2 separate regions of the Homo sapiens genome follow, and region 1 is linked to region 2. The links come from fine-mapping of genetic effects on gene expression. Tissue or cell type: whole blood. Region 2 holds a variant in brackets; the other region holds the start of a gene. All regions are shown on one strand. Distances are between the middles of the regions.

What was found. PIP is the estimated chance that this variant, and not a neighbour inherited with it, causes the effect.
Region 1: MIA3 starts here. The variant in region 2 is fine-mapped to the expression of MIA3 in whole blood (INTERVAL, PIP above 0.99).

What each region holds. Positions count from the first base shown.
Region 1 is chr1:222,614,621-222,622,728 of GRCh38, reverse strand. MIA3 (MIA SH3 domain ER export factor 3) reads right to left here and starts at 4,632. Exons shown (of 28, transcript NM_198551.4): 1 at 4,486-4,632; 2 at 1,437-1,570. The coding sequence starts at 4,618. RefSeq lists enhancers at 3,592-3,651, 3,932-4,814, silencers at 4,335-4,594, 4,765-4,834 and a cis regulatory region at 5,640-6,222.
Region 2 is chr1:222,576,247-222,584,354 of GRCh38, reverse strand. TAF1A (TATA-box binding protein associated factor, RNA polymerase I subunit A) reads left to right here. Exons shown (of 11, transcript NM_005681.4): 3 at 58-227; 4 at 4,483-4,596; 5 at 6,712-6,910. Among named protein-coding and RNA genes, the nearest start is that of TAF1A-AS1, 9.6 kb to the left of the region's middle. RefSeq lists an enhancer at 1,870-2,009. The variant G/A (reference allele first, on the strand shown) is at 4,743.

The DNA.
Region 1 (8,108 bases), 38 kb before region 2:
CTTTTCTATGAAAAAACGCAGCCTAGGTACATGGAAAAACATTTCCAAGAGTAAAGATTATCAACAAATCTCATTAGGTAGACTTGAAGGAAATAGAATAGATTTGTTTTGGTATGGAGCAAGTCACTTGGGATGCTCTCTAAATAGGAGAGCTGAACCTGACCAGTTGTTGTTTCCCAAGATTACTCCCTAGGAACCTGGAATGCCAACAAAATCAGTCTATTTTCCCCAAGGGGATTTCTCAAGCCTTATTTTCTCTTTGTTTGTTTGGTGTTTTACTGACAGTGAAAACTTTCATAGTCGGGATGGGTATTTCTCTAAGTTGGGACAATCCTAAAGATATCGAGGACCCTTACTACTTGAAGTAAAGACACAGTCCACATATCACGCTTTCTAAAAAGGAAAGGACAATAACTCATAAGACAGGCCTCTCAATCAGGTCACTCCCAGTGAATCTCCTCATTAAAAATACCAAAGCATGATGCAGTCATTGATTGCCAGGTCTGATAGCAGGGTACCCATAAAATCAGCTGGGAATCAATCCCCTGGGGTAACCTCCAGACACAAGTGTCTGAAAAGCAGGACAAGGATGACCCCAAGGCTGCAAACAAAAATACAAACAAGAGGCTGGTTGCGGTGGCTCACGCCTGTAATCCCAGCACTTTGGGAGGTCAAGGTGGGTGGATCACAAGGTCAGGAGATCGAGACCTAGCTAACACAGTGAAACCCCGTCTCTACTAAAAAAATACAAAAAATTAGCCGTGTGGTGGCAGGCACCTGCAGCCCCAGCTACTCGGGAGGCTGAGGCAGGAGAATGGCGTGAACCCGGGAGGCGGAGCTTGCAGTGAGCCGAGATCGCGCCACGGCACTCCAGCCTGGGCGACAGAGCAAGACTCCGCCTCAAAAAAAAAAAAACAAACAAACAAGAAAGCACACGAGAAACAACATTTTGCTTTTTTACAGACTTATAATAGCACAGATGATTAGGGAACTGTTCCCAAGACTGCCACTTTTTCATAAATAATAATATAAACAAAGAAATACACATAAAATCAACTTTAAGCTTACATGCCTGAAACACTCTCTCACATATAGTTTACAGGAGTAAGTCTAATTCCTATGAATACTTCCTTTTTAAAGCAATGAAGTATTTTTCAGCTCTTACCATTTCAACCTCTAATACGTATGCAGCATCCTAGAGGTTGACCCTGAGGGGAACTTGCCAGAATCAGTTCTATTTCAGAAGGCTCTGCTGAGCCCCTACTCTGTGCAGACCCAAGGCCTGCTGGGGACACAGGGCCATCTTTTTTCACAGTCAGGCAGAGAGGACAAGTTAACTCCATCAAAGGTCCCAAGAAAATGCAGTCATTTAACTCTACAGTGCTAAAGAAGCCAATAAAAATTAAGCAAATAAAGTATGTCGATATTTTACTTACACTTCCAGCCCAAACTTCAGGCCATCCTCTTGCCAGTTTATAGTAAACATATACAGGATCACCTTTTTTAAAATTCACAAAACGACAATCCGGGCCTGTGAAATCTTCAAGAGCCTCACCGCGGTACATTAACACTGTATATAAAGAGAGAGAAAAAAAATAGCCAGATATCAGGATTCAGTGTTCACAGTGCATATTGATTTATCAGGAAATATAAGAATCCCACTATAAACAACAACCAAGTTTTTCCAGTACTCTCTGGAATTTCTTTCATATGCTCAAAGTATCTCAAATCCTTTGAGCTTTACTGCTATAAATCATACCTTCTGCAAGCAGACAAGGGAAAGGAAAACCTTCTCTATTTTTCTCTATGGATAATACTGAGAAACAAAAAGCAATGTGCCAACTACCACACATGGCTTTTCTCACCCAAGTGAAACTCTCGATTCCCTCTCTAACCTTCTAGTCCTCAATCTTTTCTGTTTCATATTCATAAAAAGCTTCCTTTTGCAAATGGGTAAATTCAAGCCCAGATGATGATTAACTTAAGCATGGCTACATGAACGGGTAATAGGGAACTAGAGTACCCAGGAACCCCCAAGAGGTCAATTAACTTGAACTAACCACTAAAAGGGTCTATCTTCAAGTGACTGTAACCAGTACTATGTAGCAGTAAACACTGTCAATTTCATTTGCAGCCAAGTTGTTCCCTTAGTACAGTGTCTGGATAAATTAATGGGAAAAGATATCTATCACACCCTACTATAGATTCAATTACATCACAAGGCAATATTTTCTGAAAGTAAATAATGTTGACTGTATCCAAAATTAAGTTTCAAAACAAAGGAAAGAATACCCTTATGTATATTTTTCTATAAACAAAATCAAAAGTCGACATCTCATTTGGCTGGGACTAAGCAAAACTATGAGAATAGGTCAGTAATTCAATCACGCTTGATCTAGAAACTGGCTGAAGCAGTACTTTTATTTTTGTTGACCACATACACAGTTTCCCATGTAAGATGAAATGGACAATAAATACATCTAAATAGCAGAGACAAAGAAGGACGAATAGAAATAAGATTTTTTCCAAAAGCCAATTTGCAATAAAATACATTAAAAACGTGCCTTTAAATGGCTATACACGCATATAGATTTGGAAGGGGCTACTTGTTTTTTGAAGCTAAACTCTGATTACTTTCCAACATGTCAGCTTTGTAGCTCAGATATAATTGAGTGTGAGGCCAGGTTTAAGATGATGGACAATTTAAGGTTGGGAATAAGATCAGAATTGAAAATGGCAATGTTTCTTTTGCTCCCCCTTACAATAGATCATAGAGGATTTATAATAATATTTGAGATGCCAACAAAATGCACCCTGTGGAACAGCTATTTGAAAACCACACAAGGGCACCGTACATACTCACATTACTAAACACTTTCTACAACACAACACAGACCCATCTAGACCTTGCTCCTGTTGATGCCTATTGTATTTGGTTTCCTCTGAACACGTACCATTTCTCAAGTTATGTTACAACCGTGAGCTCTTCTAACATCATGCCTCAGTACTGAAGAAGCATCAGTGATGTGATGATTCTCCAGGTAACCTGTTTTGAGGAACCCAGGCAGGGCAATGCTTGCAAGCAAAGAATACCAACTATCTTGCCATTGCCAACGGCAAATGGGTAACAGCGTGGCTTTGACCCAAGAAAACTAAAGGGAAAAATCATGGCAGTTGTACCGCTTTTGTAGTGTTTATTTACATCAACCACAGGGTTATCTCTAGGAATGGCTTCACACTCATTAGAGATCTCTTTTCTTGATTAGTGTTGTAGAGATACAAACAGTTCATATTATGAAATTCGGTTTTGATAACATCAATTTGAATATAAATAGCTAAACCATAGAGTTCTTGGCCTTCTTAAAATGAATACGTTTCTATAGGCATTGCTTAACAGTGTATGAAAAACCGTTTCTGCAGTGGCTATCAGTAAGTTACAAGGTTGAGACGGTCTGGGAGGCCCTAAAATGATCCTGGTCCGGCGAACATAGAGGGAAGAGGTTTCAACACGCAAGCGGCTAAGGCTAAACCAAGCTTGGCTTATGAGACCCTTGGAGTATTTACTGTCATTCCTGTAATAACCTTCTTCATCTGAGCCTGAAGATCTGTGCCCTCTCCACCGCCCACCTCCAATCCCAGACTGGAGAGCAATTCCGCTTCCTGCGCACAGAAGAGGAGGCTGCCGGTCCCAGGTGGCCGGTGCAGATCCTCGGTCTCTGCAGAGCGAAAGATTTTGGTCTTCCTGCAGTCCTGCCTAGCAGTCTGCAAGGCGGCTTCCAAGCACAGAAACGACAGGATTGATCAAAGTCGGGGCAGAGACCTCGGAATACAATGAGTGCTTGGACTCCAGACTCGTCCCAAACCTAAACTCCCAATTCCTGTTCAAAAGGCGGTACAAGCCCAAATCCCAATAAAGCAGAAGGGCAAAGGAGCAGCGCCAGGGAGCCTTTCCAAACAAACCCCACCATCAACCTGCCACTGGGAAAACGCCCACCGAGCCCTTAGCGCATCTGCCGGGGTGATGCACCCACCGAGGTCCCCGCAGCGCGGGCAGGAAAGCTTTGGTTGCGGCGTGGGGAGCCCAGACGCGCGGCGCGCAACCACATCTACCCTCCGAGCCCAGGCGGATTGGGGGGGTGGGAAGGGGACGCTGTGAGCCACTATTGGGGAAGCCGGGGACCACCGCAAGCAACCCCCCGCCTCAGCAGAGGAAAAATAAAACGCTGGCAACAAGTGGGAGGTGCAGCCCCCATGGTCAGGCCCGAGGGGCCGGGCGCAGGCAGAGCGGGAGAAGGCAGACACAGGGACCCGGAGCGCGCCCACCCCCGCGTTCAGCCCATCCCGCCTGCGACCCCCGGGCCGGCCAGGGGCTGCGGAACTCCCGTCCCCGCACAGCCCAGGCGGCGCCGCCGCGGAGACCCCCGGGGCCGGCGGAGACCCCAAGGCCAGCCGCCCCGAGGCCAGCCGCCCCTCCAGCGCACTCACTGCTGCATTCGTCGTCCGCGCAGAGTTTGTGCTCCGAGAACCGCCGGCCAGTGCTGGGGTCCAGCTGGCCCGGCACCCGCCAGGGCAGCCGGAGCACGAGCAGCCAGACGAGCAGCCCAGGCGCCGCAGCCATGTTGTGGTCACCTCGGGGAGCCGGTGACGCGGAGGAGGAGGCCGGGGCGGGCGCAGAGGGGCGGGACGGGGGCGGGGACGGGGCGGGGACGGGGGGGCTGGGGCGGGGGCTGGGGCGGGGACGGGGCGGGGACGGGGGCGGGGACGGGGGCGGGGGCGGGGGCGGGGACGGGGCGGGGACGGGGGCAGGGACGGGGGCAGGGACGGGGGCAGGGACGCGGGCAGGGACCAGGCGGAGCGCCGGGGGCATGTGGGAAGACAAGCGCAGAGGGGCGGCGCCCGCGAAGGTCTGAGCAGTTTCCGACTGACACGTCAGCAGAGGCTCTAGGAGGGATGCGGGAGACCTCCAGGAGGAGGACTGACAGCAGCCTCCTCCTCTCCTCGAAGCCTTCTCCTCTGGTCGCTGCCGTGGCAACCAGGACTCCCTCGCCCAATCACCTGCCTTTGCCCCAGTCCCTCGCAGCACCTCCGCGTGACTCCATTCTTAGTTCACCCCTCCCCGCGCGCTTGGGTCCCCCAACCCTGCGCCATCTCAACAGGTCCCTTCTGGCGCCTTCTCGCAGTTTCTGGTTTGTGGCCTGTCCCGAACCAGCCCCCCACTTCACCCCGCTACTTCACCCCGCTACCCCCACTCTTGGCATGGTACCTCCTTTTCTGAACTGCCAAATCCCACCCGCGATTTGCCACTGTTAGTCTCTGGTTTCAGGCTCCCTCCTTTTCAGCCTCCCAGGGCTTCCTTGGGGGCACCATCCCGTGGTGCTCTTTGATTAAGAAAGGGGGAGGTGAGTGGAATAGGGGGCTGAGGATATAAATCAGAGCCCGTGGCCTGCTTGGTCGTTGATAGAAATGGGTAATGGTCCTTGGGCTGAGATCTTGAGATTCCTAGATCTATATCCATAGGAAAAAAGTAAATTAATTTAATAACAGTGTGATGAGCTTCCATTTTATACTTATTTCATGCCAGAATTAAGATTAATCTTCACAACAATCGCACCTTAGAGTAGTAGGTCCTATTATGATCCCCATTTCAGAGATGACTACCTTAAGGCATTCAAACACCTAGTGAGTGATGGAGCTAAGATTCAAACCCAGGTAGTATGCTCCTTTTTAATCACAGCTCTGTAAAGCCTCCATCAAGCAACAAGCAATTTTTGTACTTTCTTTCTGAGCAGGGAAGCAAAATCTTATTTAAATCATACTATAACTGGATGATTTATATGTGCAGTTAAAAAAGCGGGGGACTGCATGAGCAGGTCAGCCCAGAGAAGAGTGGCTACAATGCTCTCCAGAAGAGTGGCTACAATGCTCTCCAGCCCTGGTTGAAGAACTTGGCATCTGTCTGTGACCAGCAGCTTCTCATTGCAATCTCTAAGGTTACTCATCAACCTTGAACAACAAACCCAGCAGCTGGTTTCCCAAACAAATCGTATTACTTAAAAGCAAGAAGAAAGAATGTGGCTTGTCTGTGCAATCCATTATATCGAATAAGGAAAAAACGGTAAACAGATGCTCACAAATTTTTGTCTGTAGGAGCCGTGAGAGTTCCTACTGGGCCAATGTAATTCCAATGCTGTCTTGAGAAATATACATTTGGTAAGGTCACGGACAAGCACTTTCTATCCAAGTAGTAGTTCTGTTCATTCTTCATTTCTTTTCTACTGTGTATTTATTTGTTTTAATATCTTAGATGTGTCTAATAGGCATCTCTAACAATATGTTGAAAACCAAACTCTTTATCTTTTTCTCTCAAACTCTGCTCCTTTCGGTCTTCCCTATTTGAGGAATAGGAATGACAATTTAATTCCTATCTTCTAGGTGCTTAAGCCAAAAACATACAAACCATCCTCGACCTCTTTTTTCTCACACCCAAGTCCAATCCATCAGACAATCCCATGTCTTTTTTAATAGCTTTGTTGAAGTATAATTAACCTACAATAAATTGCACATGTTTAAAGTGTACAATGATAATTTTTGACATATGTCTACACCCATGAGACCATTACCACAATGAAGTTAATTAACATATTCATCAACATCACCTCTGAAAGAGTTCTCATGATCCTTTATAATCCCTCCCTCCCTTGTCCCAGCTGTCTTCAGACAACCTTCTGTCACTGCAGATTGGTTTGCATTTTCTAGAATTTGATATAAATGGAATAATATCGTATACATTCTTTTTTTGTCTGACTCTTTCACTCAGCATAAACATTTGAAATACATTCAGAATCTGACCACTTCTCCCCATCTCCAGTGCCAGCAGTGCAGGCCAGGCCACCCATCTCTCACCTGAATAACTGCAATAGCCTTGTCATGTTCTTGCTTCTGCTCTTGCCCTTCCAAAGTCATAGTCTCAATAGTAGCTAAAGCAATTGTTTTATGAAATAAATGTGGTCATGCCTCTCCCCTGCTCATAACCTTCCCATGGCTTCCCATTTCCAAGTAAAATGCAATTACTTTTTTATGGAGTACACTGTCTTATTTAATTTTACTCCTCTGCCCTTTTACCCTCATTTCCTAACACTCCTCCCTTGCTCTGTTGGTTCCACTCAGATACACCAAGCCTAATCCTGCATTCGTGTATCTGCACTTGCAATTTTCCGTCAGCCTGGAATAATTCCCCAAATAGTCTGCCTGGCTAACTAGTTTCCTCACTTCATCGTGTCTCTGTAACAGTGCCATATCTTACAAGTGAGGCCTTCCCTGATACCCCTACGTAAAACAGAACTCCTTCTCATGACTAGCTGGCTCATCACTGTGCTTTATTTTTCTTTAGAGCGTTTACCACCTGCCTTATGTTTATCTACTTTACTGCCACCCAACCTCCAATATAAGCTCCATGGAAGCAGCGGATTTGTCTGTTTTGTTCACTGCTGTAATATCAGTGCCTAGAACAATGTCTGGAATATATAAGGTACTCAACAAATGATTTGTTGAATAAACCCACAGATCTTCACACATTATAAATATATTATGCTATTAACCTAAATAAAGCCTCCATAAAATGAATAGTACCAAAAGGGAATATACCATGAAAACAAGGCATTTGGTGTCTTCCCCTCAGTAGCATCCTTACCGCCAAGGACAGAACCTGAAATGTATTTACTGTTGAATGAGGGTGTATTTGTTGCAGAGGGAGTGGATGAAATAGCATGTATTTTTTCCCAATATACTACCAGAATATTAAAGCAGATTTAAAACATGATTTTATCTTATTTCTCCTTAGATTAGAATTAATAACAATTAATTGATGAAAAAAACAAAACTCCAACATGATCTAATCGAATATTATTACTTTACAAAGTGAATAATATTCACTTTGACTAATATTTACAAAAGCTTTTACATGAAAGGTCAGAGCTCTCTGTTACTGAAGAACTAGCTACTTAAGTGTGTAGATTTTATAGGGTTTTGATTTATTTACATTTTTGAAAAAATCATTTTCTTAAAAAGATATTGACAAGCCTGGTGGATAATTAGAAGACAGTTCTCAG
Region 2 (8,108 bases):
TGAATAGTTGAACTGGAGCCACTTGGATAAAAACTCTCTTCTTTTTCGTTTTTATAGCCATTGGAGGGAAAAGGAGGAAGGATTTTGCTCAGACAACAAGTGCTTGTTTAAGTTTTATCCAAGAAGCTCTGCTGAAGCACCAATGGCAGCAAGCTGCAGAATACATGTACAGTTATTTTCAGACCTTGGAAGATTCAGATAGCTACAAAAGGCAGGCTGCACCTGAGGTAAATAAAATTTGAGTTTGCTGGAAGAAATGATAGATTCCCAGAAGTTTATGCCTACAGCTTCACCTACAGTAGCTTTTACAGAATCTCAGTGATTTTGCTAAAAGCTACTAAAACTACTTTTGAGTGGAGAGTTTGTATTGGGACCTTTTTTGCACACTTCTTTTTACCTCTTATTTTAAAGGGGACTAAAATGTTCATTCCAATAATTCTTCCTTTTCCCCCCTCTTTATGGATGTTTCCCATCATCATGTAAAAATTTTGTTATTCTATCTTTTTTTTTTTTTTTTGAGACGGAGTCTTGCTCTGTCGCCAGGCTGGAGTGAAGTAGCGCGATCTCGGCTCACTGCAATCTCTTACCTCCTGGGTTCAAGTGATTCCCCTGCCTCAGCCTCCTGAGTAGCTGGGACTACAGGCATGTACCACCACGCCCGGCTAATTTTTTGTATTTTGGTAGAGACGGGGTTTCACCAGGTTGGCCAGGACGGTCTCAATCTCTTGACCTCGTGATCCGCCTGCCTCGGCCTCCCAAAGTGCTGGGATTACAGGTGTGAGCCACCATGCCCAGCCTATTCTATCTTAAAATCATCTCTTGACCCAAACTTCCCCCATAGACTATACTTCATTGTTTTACTCTCTTTCAGCAAAACTTCTTGAAAGAGTTGTTCTCTTTTTCCAACTAGAGTGATCCTTTTTTTTTTCGTTTTATCAAGACGTTTTTTATACGCCATCACCCACTTAAATTGTACAATTCAATGTATTTTCATACATTTACAGAGTTGTGCAACCAACCATTACCACACTCTAAATTTAGAACCTTTTTTTTCTCCCATGAAACCAAAACCCTGTACCCACTTGCAGTCCTTCCCCATTCCTCCTCACAGCTGCCGGACACTGGCAGCCACTAATCTATTACTTTCTTTTTCTTTTTTTGTTTTCTTTTGAAACGGAGTCTTGCTCTGTTGCCCAGGCTGGAGTGCAGTGGCATGATCTCTGCTCACTGCAACCTCCAGCTCCTGTGTTCAAGTGATTCTTGTACCTCAGCCTCTTGGGTGGCTGGGATTGCAGGCATGCACCACCACACCTATCTAGTTTTTTGTATTTTTAGTGGAGACTGGGTTTCACTCTGTTGGCCAGGCAGGTCTTGAACTCCTGGCCTCAAGTGATCTGTCCACCTCGGCCTCCCCAAAGTGCTGGTATTGCAAGCGTGAGCCACTATGGCCAGCCTAATCTATTTTCTATTCTGGACATTTCATATAAGTGGTTTTGTACAATATGTGGCCTTTTGTAAATGATTTCTTTCACTTGGCATAATGTTTTCATGGTTTATCCATGTTGTAGCATGTATAAGTACTTCATTACTTTTATTGCCAAATAATCTGTCATATGGAAATACCATGTTTTATTTGTCCATTTATCAGTTGTTAGACACTTAGGTTGTTTTTGCTTTTCGGTTATTGGAAATAATGCTTCTGCGAACATTTGTGTACAGGTTTTTGTGTGGACGTTTGTTTTAATTTCTCCTGGGTCTACACCTGGGAGTGGAATTGCTGGTCATATGGTAACACTATGTTTAGCCTCTTGAGGAACTGCCAGACTGTTTTCCAAAGTGGCCATACCATTTATATTCTCACCAGCAATATCTGAGGCTTCTAATTTCTCTAATCCTTGCCAATATTTTGTTATTGTCCTGTCTTACTGATAATAGTCATCCTTGTGGTTGTGAAGTGGCATCATCCTGGTTATGATTTGCATTTCTCTAATGACTAATGATTCAGAGTGAGCTTTTTAAAACATATCAGATCATGTCACTCCTCTGCTGAAAACACTGTAATAGCTTTCCATTTCATTCAGTAAAAGCCAAAGTCATAATTGCCTATAAATTCCTATGTGATGTGCTCACTTCCTTTCCTTGTTTGACCTCTCTGACTTCATCTCCTGAAACAGGTGGAGCATTCCGAATTCAAAAATGTGAAAACCAGAATGCTTCAAAGCTTTTTCATTACTGACATGAGATAGTGACACCTTTGCTTTCTAATGGTTCAATGTATACAAATTTTGTTTCATGCACAAAATTTTAAGAATATTATATAAAATTACCTTCAGGCTATATGTATAGGTGTATATGAAACATAAGTGAATTTCATGTTTAGCCTTTGGTCCTATCCCCAGTCTCATTATGTATATACAAATATTTAAAAAGCGGAAACAATTTCAAGTCTGAAACATTTCTGGTCCCAACGATTTCAGATAAGGGATACTCAACCTGTATTATCCTGCTTGTTTTTTCTTTTCCATCCTCACTGGTCTCCTTGTTCTTACTTGAATGGGCCAGGCATATTCCTGACTGATTGCCTTTGCCTTAACCAGTTCTTGGAAAGCTCTTTCTTCAGCTATCACTGCAGCTACCCTCCTTCAAGGCCCCTTTTCATTGAGGCCTACTTTGACTATTTAAAATTGCAATTGCCTTACTCCAACTGCAACCTGCACTTTCTGAATGGCACTCCTGATCTCCTTGTCCTGCTGCATTCTTTTCCTCTAACAGTTGACAATTTAATTATATTTCTTGGTTATTGTTTGTCTCTCTACATAGAATGTAAATTTCACAGGGCAGGGTTAAAACAGTGCCTGGCATATACTGCTAAATTTCTTCAGTAAAAGACAGTTTACCCACAAATAACTTGACATGAGTGTCTCATAGGTTTTACTAACACAGTCACCATTGCATCAATTAGTTATCTTCTAGAGCAAAAAAAATAAAAAAGAGAAGCTGAAAAAAAAGTTTAACCATTCATTGAAAATTTAATTTATGGACTTAAGTTACATACTCCTGTAAAACATTGAACATGTTACAGCCTCTTGTTGTCCAGATTTTGTTTTGTAAAATGAAGGAATTGGATCAGTGGTTTTTGAGCACTTCTTTGGCTCTCTTTGGATCACCTAGGGCTTTCATTCAAAGTATAAATTCCTTTACTCCACCCCTGTCTATTGAGTCAGAGTATCTTTTATTTGTATTTTTTTATTTTTTGAGATGGAGTCTCACTCACTTTGTCACCCAGGCTGGAGTGCAGTGGCACGATCTTGGCTCGCTGCAAGCTCCGCCTCCCGCCACGACGCCTGGCTAATTTTTTGTATTTTTAGTAGAGACGGGGTTTCACCGTGTTAGCCAGGATGGTCTCACTCTCCTGACCTCGTGATCCACCCGCCTCGGCCTCCCAAAATCCTGGGATTACAGGTGTGAGCCACCGCGCCTGGCCCAGAATACCTATTTTTAACTGGTGTCCCATGTAATTACTGTGTACACTGGTGGTGAGAATAGCTATCATAATCTCAAAGTTTTCTTTTTTTTTTTTTTCCTGCTTTTCTTCCCCCCCTGCATTTACCCATCCCTGGTGGTAGGTGATCCAAGACCCAGGTTTTCTTTAAGCTCCCAAATACTACAGTGTGATATTCTACAAATGAAATCTTGATATCTCTGAGTTGGGAAGATGAGGATCCTTATATCAAATGATAATATGTGTATCATATATAACTATAGCAGTGATAGTGTGTGTATCCACATATAACCAATATGTATGTTCATAGAAATAATTGATTTACAGTTCAGTTTAATTTACTTTGAAGTTGGTATTATTGATTACTTTAAATTGAGGTTAGCGAAATAGAGATTTGCTCTCATGAAAAAAGAGCTCCAAGTTCTGCCGCCAAAGTTTTGGTGATCTGAGGATAAAATATTTTTTTATTAAGATTTGTCCATAGCTAATCAAAATTCTTAAATTGGCATTCTAAATATAGAATAAATGTAGTCAATAGTTGTAGAATTTGATGGGCTCTCAGGAAATGTGTAGTTTGTTGCCCTCATTTTGCAGATGATGAAGAAGAGGCTGAGACCAATGAAGAAGCCAATATTATTAGAACCCAAATTTTCTGACTTTAATATTCTTCCTTCCATACCAATTAAACATTTTATATTAAATATGTATCTTAACTGTCTACTTTCTTTAAACTACTAAATTAATAATGATGCTATTATACTATCTGATATTTTAATAGAAATTTGAAAGGTTAAAACTATTCTATCACATAAGGAAGTAGTATTAATTTTACATGGCAAAGTAGAGTAAAATGTTGACGGTAGTGGTCTCTGGAAAAGGAATCACAGGTTATTAATGTTGTAATCAGGAAAACAATATCTTAGACAGAAATTGGTTAAGGCAAAAATTTTACATTTTGGCAGTAATTTCTGCTTTGACAGATTATTTGGAAGCTCGGAAGTGAAATTCTATTTTATCATCCCAAAAGCAACATGGAGAGTTTCAATACTTTTGCTAACCGGATGAAAAATATTGGCGTCATGAATTATTTAAAGGTGAGAATATGGGCTTTGTGAATTTACACTTGCAGTATTCTTTTTTTTTTCTAATTGCTTGTGTCAGTGATAAGGTAGTTAACCTAAAAAATGTGGGACAAGGATAAGACATTCTGGATAAATAAGAGAAACTGAAAGAAAAGAGC[G/A]TTATGAGAACCATTTACTTCTTGATTTTCAGGCGCCTCCTGTGTTCTCTGACTAAAAATTCCTTTTCTTTGTATATTTCTTCTGGCTGCCAAAACCAGTTATTCAGAGATTGCAGTGGTATGATGATGGGCCAGATTCTAAAATGTTTGCTGAAGTCACTTGAGCTTAGAGTTGGTGTTTAGAAAAGGAAAGAGCTAAACAAGTTGGGAATTTAAATACGTGAAAATATTTTAATACTTCTAATGTTTAGGTGGAATCTTCACCTCCAAGTTCATATATCCTTTTGTAAAAGTCTTATCCAAAAAGATTGAGACATTTTCAAAATATTGTATCTCCCTCTCTATGTTTTTGTCTCAAAGAGCACTTTTTCAATACAGGTTTGTAAATGCTTTGCTTTAAAAAAATGTTTTGAGTGTCTATTTGTGTGCCAGATGCTCTTACGATTTTGTTCTCTGGTAGACCAGGTATACTGTGAGTGGAAATTAAATGGGGGCAGTTTACGGTTCTACTTAAGAAAAAGCTTTCTAACTAAACAATTGGAAATGGGAATGGCCTACCCTGATGTGTGCTCTGCGTCTCTTTTTTCAGGTCTAAACTGGATAGCCATTTAATTAGGGAGGGAGTGTGAAGAGTAAACTGTTGGTTAGGTCCCTTTTGGCTCATAGAATCTACTCAGTTGAAGTAAAGAAACTGAAAGGGAACCTCATTTCTCAATAAGAGTCTGAGAGTGATAATTAGGATAGATAATACAATTTTTTTTGTTGTTAATAATTTTAAAAACACTTATTGCCGCTTACCAGGCAATATGCTAGACATGGTTCTTATAGTAGAGGAAGATCATGTAAATGGAATGAAGTGTTATGGGTACCATAGTAGAAATGTAACAAATGGTGAGAAGATAAAGGAGAAAATGGCCAGTTCTCTGGAACTAGAGAGGGTTGGGATTTAATGGGTAGGGGAATCAGGAAAAGAATGAAAGTGATACTTGAGATAAGTTTGCAAAAGCAATTGGCCATTCACTAGGCAGATTAGGGGAAAGGGCAGCCCTGCATGGCGGGGGTTATAAAGAGTTTAAAAGCCCTACATCCAATAATTTAGTTACTCTAAAAATCACTTGGGTAGAAGTTGGGGGAAGTAGGCTGGGCCCTGTGTGCCATACCCAGGGAACTTGGATTTTAATTCTGTAGTCAGTGGGAGCCATTGAAGGAGTTTATGCAAATGACTAACAAGATGAAATTTCTTTGGTAGCCACTTGAAAGATGGATTGTAGGGAGGCAGGAATGGAGAGGCCAGTTGACAACTTATTGCAGTACTTTGGCTCTACCCATATGATTAATTGTAGTTCTCATTATTCTCCTCTTTAATGTCTTCCCTTTTTGTAATACTCATTCTTTGTATAATTTTTCTTCCTGCTTCTCCTGTATCAGGGATACACTTTCCTCTCCATCTGAACTGAAGCCATTCTTCAGCATCCCTTATTAAGATATTTTCTCTAAGCTTATATAACATGTATAAAATAGTAATATTTGTTGAATGTCTGCTATGAGCCAAACTATTAGGTGATTTGCAAGTATTATCTCATTTAATCTTGAAAACACCCTTCTGAAGGGGCAGTAATGTTCCGTAAAACAAATGAGACTCACAAAGAGTGAATAATTTACCCAGGTTTATTTAGTTTTTAAGTGGTGTATGAACCAAGACACTCATCTTCAAAACCTCTTTTTTCCCCACTATATCACACTGTCTTTTGTTTGTAAGTTTACATAATTTAGCTCATATTTACATAGTGTTAATTGTTTCCTATGTCTTACTTCTTTGCCAGATTGTACCCAACATCAAAATTTTCCATGTCAAGTTATTTGTATCCTACCAAGGTCTTTGCCCAGCATGTATTATATATTTACTGAGCTTTTTGACTAATGGTTATCTAATGGCTTAAATGGCGGTGTACCCTTATTATTTTTGCAGATCTCCTTACAACATGCATTATACCTTCTGCATCATGGAATGCTTAAAGATGCTAAGAGAAATCTGAGTGAGGCAGAGACATGGAGACATGGTGAAAATACGTCTTCCCGGGAAATATTAATCAACCTTATTCAGGCCTATAAAGGGCTTTTACAGTATTATACCTGGTCTGAAAAGAAGATGGAATTGTCAAAGCTTGGTAAGTGAATACAGGTAAACTTTTTCTTATGATGAGACTGAGGGGCAGAGGGATCTTAAGGAGTAATCTAGTAATTTCCCTATTGACTTCATCCAGATATTATGGAGAACAGACTTTTTATGGATTTAAAATTCTTGATCCTTTATAATATTTCTGATATATAAAAAGCTTCAATCATAAATTAGATGGTTCATAATTAAGTTCATGATCATTTTAGGTTCATTGCTGTTTTGAATGTGATTTAGTCCAGGATAAACACAGCCAGACACAGCAGTGGAGACAGGTTTGATTCAGTAACTACTGACAGGAGGAAGAGCTAAACTCCATTCCAATTTCTATGGAGGTGACTTGGGGTTGTAAAGGGTGGGGGTGGGGAGCTTAAAAAGCAGAAGGCAGAACCACCAGTAAATTCTTCTGGAGTTTTCCCAGGCAAACATTTCAAGAGGGGCTGGGGTCATCCTGGGGATGTGGCCTTGAGCTGTTAGAAACTATGTTAGTGTTCTAGAAACTATGTTCAAGTATTTATTGGCCAAGTTTGAGGCCTAGTCCAGAAGAGAGCTCAGAGGAGCCTGGCTGGAGTTTGGTCAAGAAGAAAGTCTTTGCCAATTTCTAAGAAAGGCTACAGATTTTCTTCAGCAGTCATTATTACATATAATAAACATTTCTTCCTGTGTGCCTAGAATGGAGTTTAATTTACTTTGTAATGTTATTTCTCAGAATAATATGTTTAAAGAATAGGTCAAGATGGTCATTTCATTTTTGTGTAAAGGTTATAATGGACAATTTTCTTGATTTATTGACTATACCAGAAGTTGACCATTCAGTTCTCAAACTGATTCCCCTTCTCTTAACCTTCAATGGTGTTATCATCTTCATTTATGCCCAGATTTGCATTCACTGGAACTGTATGATTCTTTGCAATTCGCTTGCCTTGTATAGTTTCTCCGTAGGGGATAATCCTCGAGATTAACCTAATCTCTATGATTAACCCCTTTCTGTTTTCATCCTCCTCCATATCTTAGTCCTACTATTTATCACTTCTTATGTGGTAAGCAGTATTTCCTTATTATCCTTATGTGATAAGTGGTATTTCCTTGGTCTCTGGGCATGTAGTTTCACTAATTTCGATTCCCTTCCCTCTTCTTTCAAGATACTCTGAAATGCTCTCTTCATCATGATAATCTTGTGAGGCCTTTGT